Linked DNA regions of Homo sapiens. The protein of the gene in region 1 purifies or fractionates together with the protein of each later gene. This does not show direct contact. Each region holds a gene or a part of one and is shown in the gene's direction. Other genes may lie near its edges. The genes, in order: LRRC56 and METAP1D.

What was found.
Region 2: the proteins of LRRC56 (region 1) and METAP1D purify together in Homo sapiens (affinity purification with mass spectrometry; 2 studies listed by BioGRID and IntAct, with this or other methods). This does not show direct contact.

What each region holds. Positions count from the first base shown.
Region 1 is NC_000011.10:545,531-555,516, forward strand, and holds the end of LRRC56 (leucine-rich repeat-containing protein 56), read left to right. Parts: intron 1-4,371; coding exon 4,372-4,468; intron 4,469-4,541; coding exon 4,542-4,742; intron 4,743-5,600; coding exon 5,601-5,772; intron 5,773-6,120; coding exon 6,121-6,297; intron 6,298-6,372; coding exon 6,373-6,437; intron 6,438-6,559; coding exon 6,560-6,702; intron 6,703-7,038; coding exon 7,039-7,172; intron 7,173-8,432; coding exon 8,433-8,746; 3' UTR 8,747-9,382; downstream 9,383-9,986. Other genes in the region: LMNTD2 (lamin tail domain-containing protein 2), read right to left, coding at 9,450-9,581, 9,775-9,973. UniProt on the Homo sapiens protein: Required for the assembly of dynein arms.
Region 2 is NC_000002.12:171,994,793-172,004,597, forward strand, and holds the start of METAP1D (methionine aminopeptidase 1D, mitochondrial isoform 1 precursor), read left to right. Parts: upstream 1-5,160; 5' UTR 5,161-5,177; coding exon 5,178-5,217; exon of another isoform or gene 5,218-5,267; intron 5,268-9,805. UniProt on the Homo sapiens protein: Removes the N-terminal methionine from nascent proteins. The N-terminal methionine is often cleaved when the second residue in the primary sequence is small and uncharged (Met-Ala-, Cys, Gly, Pro, Ser, Thr, or Val).

The sequences.
Region 1 (9,986 bases):
CAGCAGAGCCTGTGTACAGAACCCGGACCAGACGGCAGCTCCCGGGAGAGGCACAGCAGAGCCTGTGTACAGAACCCGGACCAGCTCCCAGGAGAAGCACAGGAAGCTCCGTGCCCCACAGCAACTCACAACATTCGGAGCTGAAGACGTTGGCGGCTCTCACGTCATCGGAAGGGAAAGAACAAGGCTGAAGGAACATCCGACTTTATTCTGGGGGTTTGGGCAAAGTGGGTTTTGTGAAAACGCTGCTGGTTTTATGTAGCCTGTTCCCAGCAGCATAAGGCAGGGGAATTCCAGGCAGAATTCTAGAACATTCTCCAGCTGTGTGAATTGGGCTCCAAGGGCCACATCTAGTTATTTCCAGATGAGGATAAGGGTATTCATTAAGCAACCTCTCTTTGAATGTTTTCTTGATTTTCCTTATTTGTACTTCTGTTTATCAAACAAATATCAAAATGGGCCGGGCACGGTGTCTCACGCCTATAATCCCAGAACTTTGGGAGGCCGAGGTGGGCAGATCACCTGAGGTCAGGAGTTCGAGACCAGCCTGACCAACATGGAGAAATCCCATCTCTACTAAAAATACAAAATTAGCCGTGCATGGTGGCACATGCCTGTAACCCCAGCTGCTCAGGAGGCTGAGGCAGGAGAGTCGCTGCAGTGAGCCGGGAGGCAGATGCTGCAGTGAGCTGAGATCACACCACTACACTCCAGCCGGGGCAACAGAGCGAAACTCTGCCTCAAAAAAATAAAGTAGGCCAGGCACAGTGGTTCACGCCTGTAATCCCAGTACTTTGGGAGGCCAAGGTAGGCAGATCACGAGGTCAGGAGATTGAGACCATACTGACTAACATGGTGAAACCCCGTCTCTACTAAAAATACAAAAAATTAGCCGGGCGTGGTGGTGGGCGCCTGTAGTCCCAGCTACTCGGGAGGCTGAGGCAGGAAAATGGCGTGAACCCAGGAGGCGGAGCTTGCAGTGAGCCAAGATCGCACCACTAAACTCCAGCCTGGGCGACTGAGTGAGACTTCGTCTCAAAAAAAAAAAAATACATGAAGATCTGGAAATGGAAGAAAGTTGGAAAACACTTTGGGGTCAAAGACACAGTGGGCAGCCCACAGAACTGGAACAGAGAGGGGCCTGGACATGAAGTCAGGCCTGCAGCAGGCACCCAGACGACACCGCGAACGAGAAACTAGGATGGGTTTGGAAAATGGACTTCTTAGAAACATGTCTCCCAGCCAGGCGGGTTGGCTCACACCTGTAATCCCAACACTTTGGGAGGCCAAGGCAGGCGGATCACGAGGTCAGGAGTTCAAGATCCGCCTGGCTAACGTGGTGAAAACCCATCTCTACTAAAAATACAAAAAAAAAAAGAAATAGCCAGGCATGGTGTGCGCTTGTAATCCCAGCTACACAGGAGGCAGAGGCAGGAGAATTGCTTGAACCCAGGAGGCGGAGGTTGCAGTAAGCCAAGATTGCTCCATTGCACTCCAGCCTAGGCAACAAGAGCAAAACTCCATCTCAAAAAAAAAAAAATTAGCTGGGCTTGGGCTTGGGCTTGGCGGTGCATGCCTGTAATGCCAGCTGCACAGGAGGCTGAGGCATGAGAATCACTTGGACCTGGGAGGTGGAGGTTGCAGTGAGCTGAGATCGCGCCACTGCACTCCAGCCTGGGTGACAGAGCAAGACTCCGTCTCAAAAAACCGTAAAAAACAAAAACAAAGAACAAAAAAAGTGCCCCTAATACAAGAGTAAATGATATTCTAATGGAGATGGCTGTACTTTTTTTTTTAGCTTAACAAATAAGCCTCTATTATTTTGTGTTTTTTTTTGTTTTGAGACAGAGTCTCACTCCGTTGCCCAGGCTGGAGTGCAGTGGCGCAATCTCGGCTCACTGCAATCTCGCCTCCCGGGTTCACGCCATTCCCCTGCCTCAGCCTCCCGAGTAGCTGGGACTACAGGCGCCTGCCACCACGCCCGGCTAATTTTTTGTATTTTTAGTAGAGACGAGGTTTCACCACGTTGGCCAGGATGGTCTCGATCTCCTGACCTCATGATCTGCCCGCCTCGGCCTCCCAAAATGCTGGGATTACAGGCGTGAGCCACCACGCCCGGCCAGAAGCCTCTATTGTTAAGACCAACAAATTAGCTCTAAGAACAACAAAAAAATATAAAAAGCACATAAATACACAAAATATAAAAGAGCAGTGGAAGGTACTATAAAATTAAATATGATGCACTACCTGTAACAAAACAAAATAGTTCCAAAGGAAAAATGACTAGGTCATAAATTGTATAAAAAATATATTCAGGCCAGGTGCGGTGGCTCACACCTGTAATCCCAGCACTTTGGGAGGCCAAGGCGAGTGGAACATGAGGTCAGCAGTTCAAGACCAGCCTGGCCAAGATGGTGAAACCCCGTATCTACTAAAAATACAAAAATTAGCCGGGTGTGGTGGCGGGCACCTGTAATCACAGCTACTCGGGAGGCTGAGGCAGGAGAATTGCTTGAACCTGGGAGGCAGAGGTTGCAGTGAGCCAAGATCGTGCCACTGCACTCCAGCCTGAGTGACAGAGACTCCATCTCAAAAAAAAAATTAAAAATTAAAAAATTTCAAAGGAACTTGTCATAAATAAAAGACTGAAAGGAAAAACAAACTGAATTATTGGCACTGAAACATATCCTAATAAAGTTACTGGCATGAAGATAAAGGTAAAAAGTTGGAGCAGCCAAGAAAAGAGATTGACTTGTCTTTTTTTCTTTGAGACAGGGTCTCACTCTGTCGCCCAGGCTGGAGTGCAGTGGTGCGACCATGGCTTACAATAGCCTCGACCTCCTGGGCTCAGGTGCTCCTCCCACCTCAGCCTCCTGAAGTGCCAGGATTACAGGCATGAAGCACTGTGCTCAGCCTCAAGTTTTGTTTGTTTGTTTGTTTGTTTGGAGACGGAGGCTCGCTCTGTCGTCCAGGCTGGAGTGCAGTGGCGCAATCTCAGCTCACTGCAACCTCCACCTCCCCGGTTCAAGCGATTCTCCTGCCTCAGCCTCCCAAAGTGCTGGGACTACAGGCACCCGCCACCACGCCTGGCTAATTTTTTTGTATTTTTAGTAGAGATGGGGTTTCACCGTGTTAACCAGGACGGTCTAGATCTCCTGACCTCGTGATCTGCCTGCCTCGGCCTCCCAAAGTGCTGGGATGACAGGCGTGAACCACCGCGCCCGGCCTCAAGTGGTTTTTTAAGGACAGAAATAACGAAGTGCTCCTTAGACGTCGCCACAGTGGACACTGGAACGAAAGGCTTTGCAGCCTCCTGGGAAGAGGCGTGAACTGAGAGTCTGACACCCAGCCTAATGGCTGCATAAGCTCACAGCCAGCAAACATCTGTGAGTCAGAGATCAAGGGGTTTCCATTAGCTGCTCTTGAAGAAATCACTAGACACAAATCCCAGCCAATTCAGAGCGGAGTGGAAAAGCCATTGAAGGCAGCAGGCTGAGGACAGACACTGACTCCACAGCGCGAAAGGACGGACCACCGGGAATGCACCTGAGGGCCCACAGAAGGAAGCTGAAAACACAGTGGGCGGAATGAAGCCCAGGTGAGTCACAGCCTACGGGTGCCGTGAACTGGACAGAAAGAAGATTTCCGAAGAAATCACCCAGCCCTGGAGGAATCTGTGGCTCCTCAGGGAAAGCCTGTGAGCTCAGGTGGCCCTTTCACAAGGAGAGGTGCAGAGATGGCGTAGCAGCGCTGAAGGGACGGCCTCCCAGCCGAGAGGGGCAGGTGCAGGGTCCCTGGGGACAGCGCATGGTGAAGTCACTGTGGCTACAGTGGGAACAGGGTGGGCCCGGCAGGAAGCAACCTGTCCCTGCACACATCAAGCCGCCCTGACCCACCGCCACCTCCAGCAGCTGGTCCCCACAAAAGCTGCCAGCTCAGCACGGGGTCAGCCTCCAGCGAAGCCCCCCACATCGGTGTCCAGGGGCTCAGGCTCCCAGGCAGCACTCCAGACCCTTACTCCAAATTCGAGTGCCCCAAACGCTACTGAGGAGACAATTAGAAAGAGAAAGGTGATGCCTGCAGCCTGCCAGGGAGGGGACTGAGCCACCCACTATGAGGGCAGCGCCTTGGGCACAGCTGAGCCACCGGTCACGAGGGCAGCTCCCCAAGCCAGGCCCTCCAGGGCTTGGAGAAGGTGGGGGACACTGTACCCACACCAGAGCCAGAAGGCCAAGGCAGAGAGCCCCTTCCTCAGTCTAGAGGCCACCATAGGTGGTCACACCTGCCCCTACCCCTGAAGACAGCCAAAGGCAGGTGGTGGCTGAGCACAGGGCTGGGCACATGTTGACCACCAAACCCTGCCTTCTGCAGGGACTTGGGCACGTCTCTGGGCCACCTGCAGGTGCTGTGGCTGGCTCGCTGTGGCCTCGCTGACCTGGATGGCATCGCCTCTTTGCCAGCACTTAAGGTGAGTCTGGGCACCCTGGGCTGGGGAGGCCTGGGCTGGGCCGGGCCCTGGCTCAGAGCCCCGCGCTGCCCAGGAACTCTACGCCTCCTACAACAACATCTCGGACCTGAGCCCACTGTGCCTGCTGGAACAATTGGAGGTGCTGGACCTGGAGGGCAACAGCGTGGAGGACCTGGGGCAGGTGCGCTACTTGCAGCTGTGCCCACGCCTGGCCATGCTCACCCTGGAGGGCAACCTGGTGTGCCTACAGCCGGCCCCTGGCCCCACCAACAAGGTGCGTGTCCCGGGCACCCGGCCAGCATGTGCATGGCCAGGAGAGGCTCCCTGTGGCTCCAGCCCCGGGGCCCCTCCTCTGGCCAGGTACTTCTGTGCCCACCCGCACCCTATGGCCTGCTCACCATGAGTTCACCTCCTCTGTCACTGGAAGTCTGACGGCTCCCAGGACACCCTCCTGGACCAGCCCCGCTAGATCCCACAGGGTCACCTGCACACACGCCATGTCCCTTAACCCACATATGCACCTGTGAGGTCCACACATAAGCCACGTGGAAACACAAAGAACCACGTGTACACGGATGTGTGCACACACACACCTGTGTACGCCCTGTCCAGAGCCACCTCCAGCCCCACAGGCCCCACAGACCACCCTATGCAGTATCTCGGGGCTCTGCGTGCCCTGCTCAGAGCTGGCACACCTGTGCGTGCAGGCCCTGGCGTAGCTCACAGACCCTACACAGGGCACATCTGCCCTGAGCTCACAGTGCTAGCCTCATTAGCTGCTGCTTGGTGCTGCCACATGCTGAGGTCAGCGTCTACCAGTGCCCAGTAGCTACTGCTCCGTGGGCCAGAGCCCTGAGCTGAGGGCAGTTCCATGGGCCAGAGGGCATCCCTGGACCCGGCCTTGGGTCTGGAGAGTGGGGTCCTACATCCTGAGCAGGTGAGAGCCCAGTCCCTCAGTCCCTGGGGTGTGAGAGTGACCCAAGCCCACCCCTGCAGGGTAGGCAGCATCCCCACCTCTGGGCCCCTGCCCTGCCCCACGGTGGGTCTGGGAAAGGGAGCCAGGGAAAGAGCTGGCCGGAAGGAAACACTGGACCCAGACCTGCCCTCCCTCCCCCTCCCCCTCCCCCTGCAGGTGCCCAGGGGCTACAACTACAGGGCAGAGGTGAGGAAGCTCATTCCCCAGCTGCAGGTCCTGGACGAAGTGCCGGCCGCACACACAGGCCCACCGGCCCCCCCGCGGCTGAGCCAGGACTGGCTTGCGGTGAAGGAGGCCATCAAGAAGGGCAACGGCCTTCCCCCGCTGGGTACGGCAGCTGCGCCCGGAGGACCCACTGCTGAGCCCCAGCTCCCCCCAGGAAGAGGCCCCCACCCCAGGCTTCTCAGAAACGGATAGCCACATCTCATGCGCTTCTCCAGCCTTGACCCCGGTCCCCAGAGCTGTGCACACCCGGCCCCAGGCCAGGACACTGTCTCTGAGCAGCCCACAGAGGGAGAGGAAGGTCTGAAGATGAGGGCCTCTCTAGAAGGCTGCAGCGTGAGAGGCCAGCCTCAGGCCATGCAGCATGGGGATTGGGGCCCCTGGTCTGTGGACAGAGTCTGGGGGGCGCTCTCAGGCTGGGCCTTGGTGACCTCTGCTTCTGAACCTCGGGCAGACTGTCCCCGTGGAGCCCCCATCCGGAGACTTGACCCCGAGCTGTCCCTGCCTGAGACGCAGTCCCGGGCCTCCAGGCCCTGGCCCTTCTCCCTGCTGGTCCGTGGGGGCCCCCTGCCTGAAGGCCTGCTTTCTGAGGACCTGGCCCCAGAAGATAACACCAGCAGCCTCACCCATGGTAACTGACTTGCCTCAAAGCTGACCCTGCAGCCCCTCGGCCCCGAACCAGGCCCAGCCATGCTGTCTCTTGCAGGTGCTGGCCAAGTCCTCTGTGGGAACCCCACCAAGGGCCTGCGGGAGCGTAGGCACCAGTGCCAGGTACAGCCCACAGGGACCAGCCCCCCACGAGAACCAGTGTCCAGGGTTGCGGCCCTGACAGTGCCCTGCCCTGCCGCCATTCCAGGGCCAGAATCCCTAAAGCAGTCCCTTTTCCTCCCCAGGCCAGGGAGCCCCCCGAGCAGCTGCCCCAACACAGGCCAGGAGATCCGGCCGCCAGCACTTCCACCCCAGAGCCTGACCCTGCAGACAGCTCTGACTTCCTGGCCTTGGCTGGGCTCAGGGCCTGGAGGGAACATGGCGTGCGGTGGGTGTCCCTCCAGCTCTTCCACTGGGTGTGTCCTGTCCCGTGGGGAAATCAGGGCTGGGGCTACCTTGGCTGAGTCATCCCCAGTCCCAAGGCTCGTGGACCATCCCTGCATGTCCTGTCCCGTGGGGGGATCAGGGCTGGGGCTACCTTGGCTGAGTCATCGCTGGTCCCAAGGCTCGTGGACCATCCCTGTGTGTCCTGTCCCGTGGGGGGATCAGGGCTGGGGCTACCTTGGCTGAGTCATCCCCAGTCCCAAGGCTCATGGACCATCCCTATGTGTCCTGTCCCGTGGGGGGATCAGGGCTGGAGCTTCTCCTCCTCTCCCCACCCTAGCCCCCTCCCCTATAGGCACCCGGAGTCCCAACAGGAAGGGGCTGTAGCCCCCTGGGGCCCACGGAGGGTCCCTGAAGAGCAAGTGCACCAGGCAGAGCCCAAGACTCCCTCCAGCCCCCCAAGCCTGGCCTCAGGTACTGAGCCTGCCCGCCTGCCCCCCAGTGCCTGGGAGTGACCAACACCCCACTTCTATAGGGGGGCCCTTACCCCAGATCAGATGTGTCAACCTGGCCCTGCTTCCTCAGCCATGCTCTGAGAGGGACTGTAACAGGGAGGCCCCCTTCTGGGGGTGGGGGGCTCACGACCAAGGGAGGCCCAACCCAAGTCCTCTCCCAAGCCACGGTCCAATCCCTGTGACCTTGTGTGCCACCCGGGCTGGACGAAAGAGAGGCGTTCCACAAAAGGGGGTATGAACAGAGTCCAGAGGAGTCGGGACAGAAAGAAGGAGCCACCCCAGGGCACCAGCAGGCAGAACATGGCCACTGGGCAGCTTTCAGGGACACAGGCATGAGTCCGGGGGCTGGGAGGAAAGGCGGCCAGCAGCCCCACTGGGAGACCAAGGCAGGAGGGTGCTGCCGCTTCACCCTGAAGATGGCACGCGCACTTGGGGACATAGAATTAAGCCATGCAGTGCCCTTTACGAAGGACACTGACTTCAGTGTGATCACAGCTGCAAAGCAGAGAGGACCCTCCCTCAGCGGGCAGGCAGGCCGGGCAGGGGGCAGTGTAAGCAGGGGCGACCCCACGGTGGGCAGCTGACCCTCCTCTGTGCAGGAGCCTGGTTAAGGGGGCTGGGATGGGCAGGGAACAGGGCAGGCCAAGCCTCTGCTCTTCCATATGGTGGTGGGTGTCTGTGGAGGGGGCAGACAGAGGGGTCAACAGCTGGTTACCTAGTGGCCGTGACCTGCAGGGGTGGAGGGAGGGCAGGCAGGGCGGCCAGGAGGAGGGGAGCTGCAGTGGCCTCAGGGCAGGGTCAGGACAAAGGCATGCCAGGGCTCCAGACACCGGTGGAGGCGGGTGCTGGGGGACCCAAGGCTTGGGAACCGGCCCGGGGCGGTCAGCCAGTGAACAGGCTCTCAGGGTCAGGACACAGATGACCGAGGGTCAGAGCCAGGCCTTGTGGTCTCCTTCTCAGGGACAGGACACAGAGGACCCAGGGCCAGAACCAGGCTTCGTGGCCTCCTTGCCTGCCCCAGAGGTGGGCCCGCCCATGCGAGTCAGGGGTCACAGGGCTGGGAACACAGAAAGTGGGGTGCAGGGGTGCTGCTGCCTGTGGACCCCCAAGGACCACTGCCTCGGGGCTGCAGGGCCACGGGTGGGCTGTGGCCTCCCCACCGGGTGACTCCCTTCCCTGACAGCCTTTCTGACGTCCCATCACTCTGCTTGCTTTCTAGAGCCCTCCGGGACCTCGAGCCAGCACCTGGTCCCTTCACCTCCCAAGCACCCAAGGCCACGAGATTCTGGCAGCAGCTCCCCGCGGTGGTCGACAGACCTGCAGTCCAGGGGGCGTCGGCTCCGAGTCCTGGGCAGCTGGGGGCCTGGCCTGGGTGATGGGGTGGCTGCAGTGCCTGTCCTGAGAGCCCTGGAGGTGGCCTCACGCCTGAGCCCTCGAGCCCAGGGATGTCCTGGCCCAAAGCCAGCACCAGATGCAGCAGCTAGACCTCCCAGGGCAGCTGAACTCTCTCACCCCAGCCCCGTCCCCACTTAATATAGCCCCCACTGCCAGGCTTCCCTGTGCTGGGGCCACGACTTGCCCACATATGTGGTCACAGAGCACAGAATACCTGGGCGGGTGTGTTGGGGGGTGGAAGGAGTGCCTGGCCCTGGGGAGGACCCTCTTGGTGGAGGGGAGTGGGGGACTGGGACCAGCCAGGGAGGCAGCAGAGGCTGGAACCCAGTTTAGGCCCCCAACTGGGTTTGGCCTGGGGAGGGAGGGTCCGGCTCCCCAGCCCTTCCTTAGGGCCAGGCTTTCCCGCGGGCACGGGGGTGGGGGGTGGTCACCCGAGCAGGCCTGTGAGAGGCCTCTCCTGCTAGAATTGGGCATGGCCGAGGGGCAGGGGCTGGAGCTGCGAGTCCACCACTCCCTTGCCGGCCCCAGGGTAAGAGCCACCTCCTAGGCCGCAGTGGCCCAAGGTCCCAGCTGCTCGCCTGAGGCCGCCGGGGGTGCGGTCCAGGCCTCCCGTCTCCGGGGGATCTGTAGGGTTCCCGCACTGCGATAGGGCGGCCCGTTCCCTCCTCTTGGCGCAGGACGCCCCGGAACCCAAACCAACATTTCCAGCTCTCAGGTGTACAGAAATGCGGTTTACTTTGTAGGCCACGTTGGTTCAATAAATGATGCAGCGGACACAGCCCGCCCAGCCCCGGCGCCCGCCCGCGCCCTCCCTCGCGGTCCCGGCCCCACTCCTCCGCCCCTAGGCGCCGCGGCAGGTGTCCGCGGTGACCGGCAGGCAGCTGAGGAAGCGGAAGCCGAATCTGCTCTCCGCCGTGTTCTGCACCGACAGGGCCACCAGGGGGCAGCTACGGTCCACGCTCTTCCGGCACACCTGGGGGGCGCGGGGGCTGAGAGGCGCGCGGGGCGGGGCGGGGACGGGAGGGGAGGGGAGGGGAGGAGAGGGGAGGGGCGGGGAGGAGAGCGGAGGGGAGGGGACGAGGAGACAGAGGGGAGGGAGGGGCGGGAGAGGAGAGGAGGAGAACGAGGAGGGAGAGGAGGGGGCGCACCCGCAAGCGCGCACTCACCCGAACTCGGTGTTCTTTCTGGAGCCGACAGTCCTCCAGGCCCAGCCCGGCCTCTGCGGGAGGCGACGGCAGGGTGGGGTCACCCGGGATGGCGGGCAGGTGCTGCGGCGCGGGGATCTCGGGGTTCTCGGGCCGCGCAGGCCCCTCCCGCGCGTGGAAGAGCTTCCCCGAGCTCACTGGGGGCAGCAGGCCCCGCGTCCTGGTGGGGCGAG
Region 2 (9,805 bases), on another chromosome or scaffold:
GAAGCCTTGTCCCTCAAGCCTGCACAGTTCCCAAGCCAACTCTGACCGAAGCAGGCAGTATTATCAGAAAGCTTTAATGCACCAGTGAAAAGGGTCTGGGACCATCTCCATGCTCTTCCCTATAGCCGTCCCTTCCCTTCCCTCGCTCCCTCAGCTCCTGCCACGATTCTAGATGGGCTACTGCTCCAACAATGGATATGTTACTATGTTGGAGTGTTACTGCTGTTTTTACATCTCCTATAACATCTTTTAAGCCAAAGCGTTGGACAAACTTGAAACGAATGCTAGCCAGACTGGGCCTGATATCAACAACTTCCTTGGGGCAATGTTTTGGTCTTACCCTACAGTTAAGTTAGCCCTGTCTGGTCCCATTCTACTCCCCTTCCCTTGACAGACTGCTCAGGAGGTTGCAGCATGCTATTTGCTGAGCCCATTTGGATTATGCCTATAAATGGCTCTAGATCCCTGAAATCCTCAGAATTTCAGTATGGAAGAGGCTCAGGTAGGGCAATCCCATTAGGAAGGGGTGGGGCTTAAAGTATCATTTGCATAGGAATTATATGACTGGGAAAATGTCATTAGACTAATAAAAAATGAGAGTGGCAGGAGGATCACATGCAACTAACATCCTCCTTCTCTTGTCCTGGCTCCCTCTTGGCACTGCTAAAGATCAAGGAACAGGGCACAAACAGCAAAGATAAATCCACTTGATTTTCCACAACTGTCTCACATATGGCATTACTTTTCCTCGCAAAACATGGAATATTTACACATTTTCTCTAACAGTACCTTTAGATTACTCAGTAACATATTCATGATTGTCTCAAATGATTGGTATAGGAAACATGACATTCTGCCAGCAAGTTAGTTGAGAGTGCCCTAGAAACTGTCTGCCTGAACCTATAATCATTCAAACATAGACGCTAACTTTAGAGGGGCCCAATCAGCTACTAAGACAGATCTTTGTTGTACATGCGGCTTATGTTTATGCAGAACTCCTAGTTCCTGAAAAGAATGTTCATTTGACTTAAAATATGTAAACAAGTAGCATACCAACATATTAAAATTAGAGAAACTAGAGGCCAAGATCGGAGATTCTTCTCCAACCACAGAGTTGCTAAGAAATGATCGTGAAATCAAATCAAAAGGCTAACTTTACGGATTCAGATGGCAAAACAAAGAGGCAGGGTCAGGAAGGGAGAATGAGGCCCCTGGGTCTAGATGACAACTGCGCTGAAGCTGTGTGGTCCCGGGGTACCAGTTTCCCCCAGCAGCCACATTATATCAGTTAATCTTACAACGTATTCACATAAAACAGCTTTTTATTAGAGATATGTAAGCACCTTGGCCCCTATTTCATGGTTTGTGCTCTTTCTTTTCTTTCCTTCCTTCCTTCTTTCTTTCCTTCCTTCTTTCCTTCCCTTCCTTCCTTCTTTCCTTCTTTCCTTCTTTCCTTCCTTCCTTCCTTGCTTCCTTCCTTCCTTCCTCCCTCCCTCCCTCTCTCTCTCTTTCTTTCTTTCTTTTGACAGAGTCTCCCTCTGTCGCTCAGGATGGACTGCAGTGACACCATCCTGGCCCACTGCAACCTCCGCCTCCAGGGTTTAAGCTATTCTCCTTGCCTCAGTCTCCCGAATAGCTAGGATTACAAGTGCCCGCCCCATACCCGGCTAATTTTTGCATCTTTTAGTAGAGATGGGGTTTCGCCATGTTGGCCAGGCTGATCTTGAACTCCTGACCTCAGGTGATCTGCCCGCCTCGGCCTCTCAAAATGCTGGGATTACAGGCATAAGCCACCACACCCAGCCTGTGTTTTCAAATATCTTATAGTAATCCTAATATATATATATATAAATCTAAACTTGTGAGACAAATTACAAGATGATGTTATTTACTATAAGACAAACATTTTTAAAAAATTATTTACTTCATGTCACATAATCCCTTAGAGCATTTAAAAATGCAAATATTCAATTAAAAATTCAATACATACATTACAGAACCTGCATAATTTAACTTTTATTACAAACTACAAATTTAGACACACTCATGGTATAAGTCTATAATATTAAGTTCAAGAAGGAGGAAGGAAAAATGGGTTTTTCAAAAATATGCATATTGGAATTTATTTGATTTATATCTTTTATAAATAAAAAGATTTTAAAAGATGTGAATAAGACATGATCTTTTGAAAATCAAGGTAAAGACCTATAAAATAATAATCACAATCAAAATATTTTAACATTCAAGAATGAATTTTTGGACATAAACTGAAGGTATTAAGTTATCCTTTATTTCTTGAACCCTGGTTTTCAAAAGTTATTCAACTTTTTTTTTTTGAGACAGAGTCTTGCTCTGTTGCCCAGGCTACAGTGCAGTGGCACAATCACAGCTCACTGCAGCCTCAAACTCCGGGGCTCAAGCGCTCCTCCTGCCTCAGCCTCCCAAGTAGCTGGGACTATATGCATGTGCCACCACATCTAGCTAGTTTGTAAATTTTTTGTAGACACGGGGTCTCACTATGTTGCCCAGCTGGGTCTCCAACTCCTGGGCTCAAGCAATCCTCCTGCCTTGGCTTCCCAAAGTGTTGGAATTACAGGTGTGAGCCACTGCACCCGGCCGAATTATTCAATTTTTTATTCAAGAATCCTAAGTACAAAATCTGACTAATGGTAAGAATTCAAATCAGTGAAGTGCCATAATATAATTAACCTTCATTTCACAGATAGGAGCACGGACAGAAATGGAGTAGAGAAGTGACTCAGTAGCGGTTACTCATCTAAATAAAAGCACTCTAATGCTCAAGATCACAGAATGTTAAAATTGCAAGGGATCCTAGATATCAGTGATCTAGCCCTTTATCTTGTTGGTCACTATGTATATATCCCTTTTTTTTTTTTTTTTGAGAGAATCTTCCTCTGTGGCACAGGCTGGAGTGCAGTGGCAGGATCTCGGCTCACTGTAAACTCTGCCTCCCAGGTTCAAGTGATTCTCCCGCCTTAGCCTCTGAGTAGCTGGGATTGCAGGCATGCACCACCATGCCTGGCTAATTTTTGTATTTTTAGTAGAGACAGGTTTCACCATGTTGCCCAAGCTGGTCTCGAATTCCTGACCTCAAGTGATCTGCCTGCGTTCGCCTCCCAAAGTGCTGGGATTACAGGCATGAGCCACCACACCCAGCTTATATCCCATAAGTTGATGGTTTTGGCGGACATGTGCTGGCAGCTTTTAACCCTTCTGCGGTGAGAAGGATGTGTATGAGAGAAGCCAGATCCAGGGTCAGTGGATGAGCTATCACCTGTGCAAGTTCATATTTGCTTCATTTCTAGCTCATCCCAGATATCTACATTCCATGCCGAACTTATTGAGGATTTCCTCACTGGATTCCACTACTGCTGGTGCCACCTGGGTCCTCATAGTGTTTCCTTTTCCTTTTAGTTGTAGGGGAATAAAGCATTCATTTATTTTCCAAGGGTTGGCTGAGTTAAGTCACATGAACATGTGTTCTATTTCAGATGGGTTTGAAACTAGGCTTGATGCCTTAAGGAATAGGGATGTCTAGATTTCTTTTTTCTGTACACTGCTTAAGACTCTGTGGCCAGCTAACTCTCAGGCTCCTTTGCTGCACTCAGATTGCTGGCCTCAGTTACACAGAGGACAGATTTGCCACATTCAAAAATGCTCTCCCTGGAATTGAAATGAGTTTGCAAAAGGTAGGAGTACATTTTATTCTCATTCTTGTGCATCTTATTTACCCTGATGGAAAGCATTACTTCTCTTTATCTTTCAAGGTGACCCAAAAGCATCCAAAACCAGGTTTTCCAGAATTATAGCATGTGTCCTCTAATGAAATGCCAACATTCACTCTCTTTAAAAGTAAAAATATCAAGATTATATAGTCATTAAAAAGAATAAGTCTGAACTAAGTGTTCTAAGATTTGATGCCTATGATGACTGGAATGGAAAAAGCAAGTCATATGATTCTATTTAAAATACTTACATTTGCCTGTGTGTAAAAGGCAAAGATCTCAATTGAGCACACGGTGGTTAACTGGGGAGTGGGACTATGGTATGTACAGAGGGCGAGGAAGGGGCTTGCACTTGTTCCTTATTTCTGAATTGTTCTGAATTGTCTAGATTATTCACTGAGTGTGTAGTGCTTAAAAATTAATTAGAAGACATCACACACATTCACTGAGAATCCTAATCAATCTTCACTGCATTTAAAGTCTGGAAACGGTTACATTCTCAGTTTGACTGGTTTCATGCAGTGTTCAATTGCTTCACCTGACATTCCTCGGGTATCGGGTTCTGTGCCGGGCACGGAGGCTACTAAGATGAATAACACCTGGTCCATGACAGGATGGCATCTACCCCAGAACACAGGTAAGAGAGACAGTGAATTTGGTAAAAATGGGCACCGTCATCAGTAGGCATACATCAGCTCCCTCATCTGATTCACAATTGGCCTTCTGTAGGCTTCTTCTCTTGGCAATGCAATTGGCAGGCGTCATCCTTTTATACTTAAACTCCAAATTTAGGATTAAGACTCCAGTTAATACTGCCAAGCAGAAGGCGTCCTTGGAGAAAGAGAAGTCTCCTGAACATACCCACTGGGGTACCTAGAATAGATTTTGCAGCGACACACAGATCCTGTGTTGTCTGGAGTCTCTGCTGAGTAATGTAGATTCTGGGACAGCAAAAGGGGAGCTGGTGACTTTGAACCAAATTTTACCTTTCAACTGAATCCAGGGGAATAATTTGCAACAGAGTGGCAGACGATACAAAGTGCTATGTTGAACACTAGATTGTGCTTTATTTTTTCCGCCCAACTTCACGTTTCCATGCACCAAAATGTTGATGCTATAAATATTGGATGCCACGCTTACCTGACAGGCTTCTTCCATCCCACCTGGGCGCGGGGGCTCAGAGCGAGCGCGCGAGCCGCGGCTGGAGCCCGCCTCTCGCGGCTGGAGAGGACTCAGCCGGCCGCGGGTTCTGCTGCTTGCCCGGGTGCCCTAGCCGCTTCCCAGCCAGGGCTCCCGCAGTCAGCCCCGCGCGCGCACGCGCGCTCCCCTCGGGCGGCCTCGACGCCTCAGGGCTTCGGCAGGGCTGCGACTGGCCGGCTCCAGCGGGCGGGGCGGCGAGCGAGTGCTCGCGGCCACGTGACCGACGCCAACATGGCGGCGCCCAGTGGCGTCCACCTGCTCGTCCGCAGAGGTAAGCGCGTGGAGGAGAGCCCCGTGAGGGTTCGCACGGTTGCTCACTAGGTACGCACCCGGGTCCAAAGGGATGCGCACCCGCGCTCAGACTTCTCGGCGCACACGACTGTACTTTCAGTGTTTACGAACACACGCAGGCACACACGATGACACATTCACACACCACAGGATCACACATACAAATTTGTTCACTGATCACCCGCCTAGAACACGTCACCACGTGGCATCTTTTCGCAATTACTCCTTGAGATTTGCGGGCCATTGTCTGAAGTTTTTTTCCCCAACTTCGGTTGTATCATTAGTGTAACCAACATTTATTCTGTATGCCGAGCAAGGAAACCTATGGTAATTCTGAAATGCATCTGGACACCCGGTTCCCTTCCCTAGAGCTTTTATGCAGGCATGCTTTTTGGGGACTTGCAAAATGTGATGGTTTTCTTCCAGTGACTTAAAGTTAAGAAGATAAGAAAGGATGTCTGGGTAGTTCTAAGTAGGTTTTATCCTGCGTGAGTGTTGAGATTTTAGTAAATATACAAATGCCTTTGCAGCAGAATTGGGGAAATCTTTGTTGGATTTGAACTAGGTGCTGAATCTTTGTTGGAAAGAACTAGAAAGTTTTTCCAAGGACGGGGGAAGAGGAAAACTATCATATTTTGAGGAGCTACTTAAGCGTCAGGCATGTAGGAACAGTTTTGTGAGGTAAATATTATTTTCATAGTAACAGCTACTGTTTATTAAGTGCCTTTTAAGTACACGATACTGTGTTAAGCGCCTTACATATGCTTGCTTCCTTTTAAAACTCAATGAATGAGACCCCGTCTCTACAAAAAATTTTAAAAATTAGTCGGGCGTGGTGACACATGCCTGTAGTCTCAGCTATTCTGGGGGTTGAGGTGGTAGGATCGCTTGAGCCTGGGAGGTCAAGAGGCTGCAGTGAGCCGTGATCGTACCACTGAACTCCAGACTTGGCAATAGAGCCAGACCCTGTCTCAAAAACAAAAACAAAAACCCAGTGAGTTAGGAATTATTTTCTCTTTGCAGAAGGGAAAAGTAAGGCTAGAGAGGTTAAGTAACATTACTAAGGTCGCATAAATGGTAAGAGGCAGATTGCTCATTTGAACATGACTCTAATTTTTTTTTTTAAGACTCATTTCTCGGTACTGCATGACGTGGTCACTCCATAGAAGTCAGTGTGTAAAGTTCAGCAGAGACAGTGCAGGATGAGTGTGTACAAAAAGTGAAGAGAGCCTGGGCACGGTGGCTCACACCTGTAAACCCAGCACTTTGGGAGGCCGAGGCAGGTGGCTCACTTGAGGTCAGAAGTTCAAGACCAGCCTGGCCAACATGGTGAAACCCCGTCTCTACTAATATACACAATTAGCTGGGCGTGGTGGCGCATGCCTGTAATCCCAGCTACTCGGGAGACTGAGGTAGGAAAATTGCTTTAACCCAGGAGGTGGAGGTTGCAGTGAGCTGAGATCATACCACTACACTCTAGCCTGGGCGACAGAGCGAGACTCCGTCTCAGAAAAAAAAAATAAATAAAAATAATAAAAAATAAGAAGTGAAGAGGAAGATATTTTTAGAGAGGAAGAAGGTTGGTAATCGAATAGACTTCAGTATTTCAGTGTTAGTGGAGATGAGAAAGGGGCCACAGGAAGATTTGAGGGGAGAGATGTGTATGGGGAAGGTGATGTAGCGAGCATTTTGGACTGGTTGCATGAAGGAATGGACATCAGCATGAGAGTGTAGCCTTGTGAAAAGACAGCCAATTTACATCTCTCAAGATCTGGGTGCCAGGCCTGGCAAGGTGGCTAATGCCTGTAATATTACCCAGCACTTTGGGAGGCCAAGGCGGGCAGATCACTTGAGGCCAGGAGTTCAAGACCAGCCTGGCCAACATGGTGAAACCTGTCTCTACTAAAAATACAAAAATTAGCCAGGTGTGGTGGCACATGCTGGTAATCCCAGCTACTTGGGAGGTGGAGGTGGGAGGGATCGCCTGAACCCAGGAGGCGGAGGTTGTAGTGAGCTGAAAAAAAAAAAAAAAAGATCTGGGTTCCAGTCCAAACTTTCTTTACTAATTACTTTTCTGTTTCCTCTTTTCACAAGAAATCATGGCTTTTAGACTTCATTTTTGTATGCTTCAGGTAATGGTGAGAAGGATCTGAGGAGATAGTCAATGTAGAGGAGGAGCCAAAAAAAAAACAACCTGAAAACATACATAGGTGTATGTATGTATATATATATACACCTATGCATGTATAAACGTATTTTTATATGTGTGTATATATGTATTAGGTTGGTACAAAAGTAATTGCAGTTTTAGAATCAATGACAAAAACTGTGATTACTTTGCACCAACTGTATATATAACATCTCTTTGCAGATAACAGAAATAGCATTAATCTTTTCTTTCTTTTTGATCACTTATTATTTTGACAAATGGTGGTTTAGACAGTCTTGAGAAAATATATTATATGGAAGTCAGGCCAAGTTATTGGTTCCTATAATCCATCCCACTGTATCCCAAAGTGTTGCAACAACCAAGAAGTGGATCCTCTGATTAGAGGAGAGAAGAAAAATGTGTCATCAGGAAGCTATTTTAATGATGGAGAAAGGGCCCCTTTTTGGACTACCCATAGCTAGTTTTAAATTGCAGAGAGGTTTTCCTGCTCCCCACCCCCAAGAATTGAAAATGAAGGGTAAATTCACGAAGACTCCTCTCTCCACCCTCTTCCTCCCTTTCACCCATCTAGATTTATGTAAAGCAATCCATTACAAGTCTTCATGTACCAGGATTTATTATCAGCATTTATGAGCATCATTTCTTCTTGAAATAGAGGAAGACTTTTTTTTAACCTTTTAAAAAAGGCATGAGGTTTCTCTTGTGACGCCTCAACTCATTGTGGCTTTGGTCACAGTATACCCTATATACAGTAGTTACCTAGCTCCTCTCACCATTTCTGCTCCTTACTAGATTATTAATTCTTGTTGAACAGAAGCTTTGTCTTATGTATCTTTCTGTCTTTATAAGCACAGTACCTGGCTCAAAGTTAAGCTCATTAAAAGTATACAGAATTGAGAGGCTGTTAAGATTTGTTCTCTTCCATCATGGTCTAAGGAGGGTTGGGTAGAAACTATGAGTAGTGACATTGGAAAGAGGAAAAGACAGATCAGCCTCTTGGAACCAAGAGAGAAGGTAACAAGGGCCTTTAAGGGACTAAAATACTCCCAAGTATTAGTGCTGGCAGGAAATCCCTTCCTCAGAGTACAGAATCCCTACCCTGGGGCCCCAGGAACTCTCTCCTATCTCAGTCTCACTCCCAGCCCTCGCTTCACTGGAATCCCAGGTCTAGCTCGGGCCACGAAGCAAGATCCCAGTGAATATGAAGAGGAACAAGGAAATCTCAGCTTGAATTGTAATAATCCCCATGTGTCAAGGGCAGGACCAGGTAGAGGTAATTGGATCATGGGGATAGTTTCCCCCATTCTGTTCTTGTGATAATGAGTGAGTCTCAGGAGATCTGATAGTTTTATAAGCGTCTGGCATTTTCTCCTGCTTGCACTCATTCTCTCTCCTGCCACCCTGTGAAGAGGTGCCTTCTGCCATGATTATACATTTCCTGAGGCCTCCCGAGCCATGCAGAACTGTGAGTCAATTAAACCCCTTTTCTTTATAAATTACCCAGTCTCAGGAATTTCTTCATAGCAGTGTGAGAACAGACTAATACAGCAAGTAAGAGGGCATATTTTCTTTCTTTTTTTTTTGAGACAGAGTCTCGCCCTGTAGCACAGGGTGAAGTGCAGTGGTGCGATCTTGGCTCACTGCAACCTCTGCCTCCCGGGTTGAAGTGATTCTCCTGCCTCAGCCTCCCGAGTAGCTGGGACCACAGGTGCCCACCACCACGCCTGGCTAATTTTTGTATTTTTAAGTAGACACGGGGTTTTGCCATGTTGGCCAGGCTGGTCTCTCTTGAACTTCTGACTTCAAGTGATCCGCCTGCCTCAGCCTCCCACAGTGCTGGGATTACAGGCATGAACCACCGCACCTGGCCATTTACTTATTTTTAACAAATATAAAAAAAACTTAGAAGTACTTTTGTTCACTTGTGACTGTAAGGCCCTAGACTCCTCCACTGAGAATTTTGTTACCTTAGTGGTTTTTCAAAAATGTAATAGCCAGGCAGGGGAGGGGCTGTTATACATCATGAGTTAAGTACTTTAAACTTTTGCCAACTGCCCTGAGATCCTTGCTATCTTGTATAGCTTCTGCAGGAAAATGTCTGCTCAGTTTTGCCAAACCAACTTTTCTTTTTTTTTTTAAATCGAGACGGAGTCTTGCTCTGTTGCCCAGGCTGGAATGCAGTGGTGTGATCTTGGCCCACTGCAACCTCTGCCACCCAAATTCAAGTGATTCTCCTGCCTCAGCCTCTTGAGTAGTGGGAATTACAAGCATCCGCCGCCATGCCCGGCTAATTTTTGTATTTTTAGTAGAGACGGGGGTTTCGCCATGTTGGCCAGGCTGGTCTCGAACTCCTGACCTCTGGTGACGCACCTGCCTCGGCCTCCCAAAGTGCTGGGAT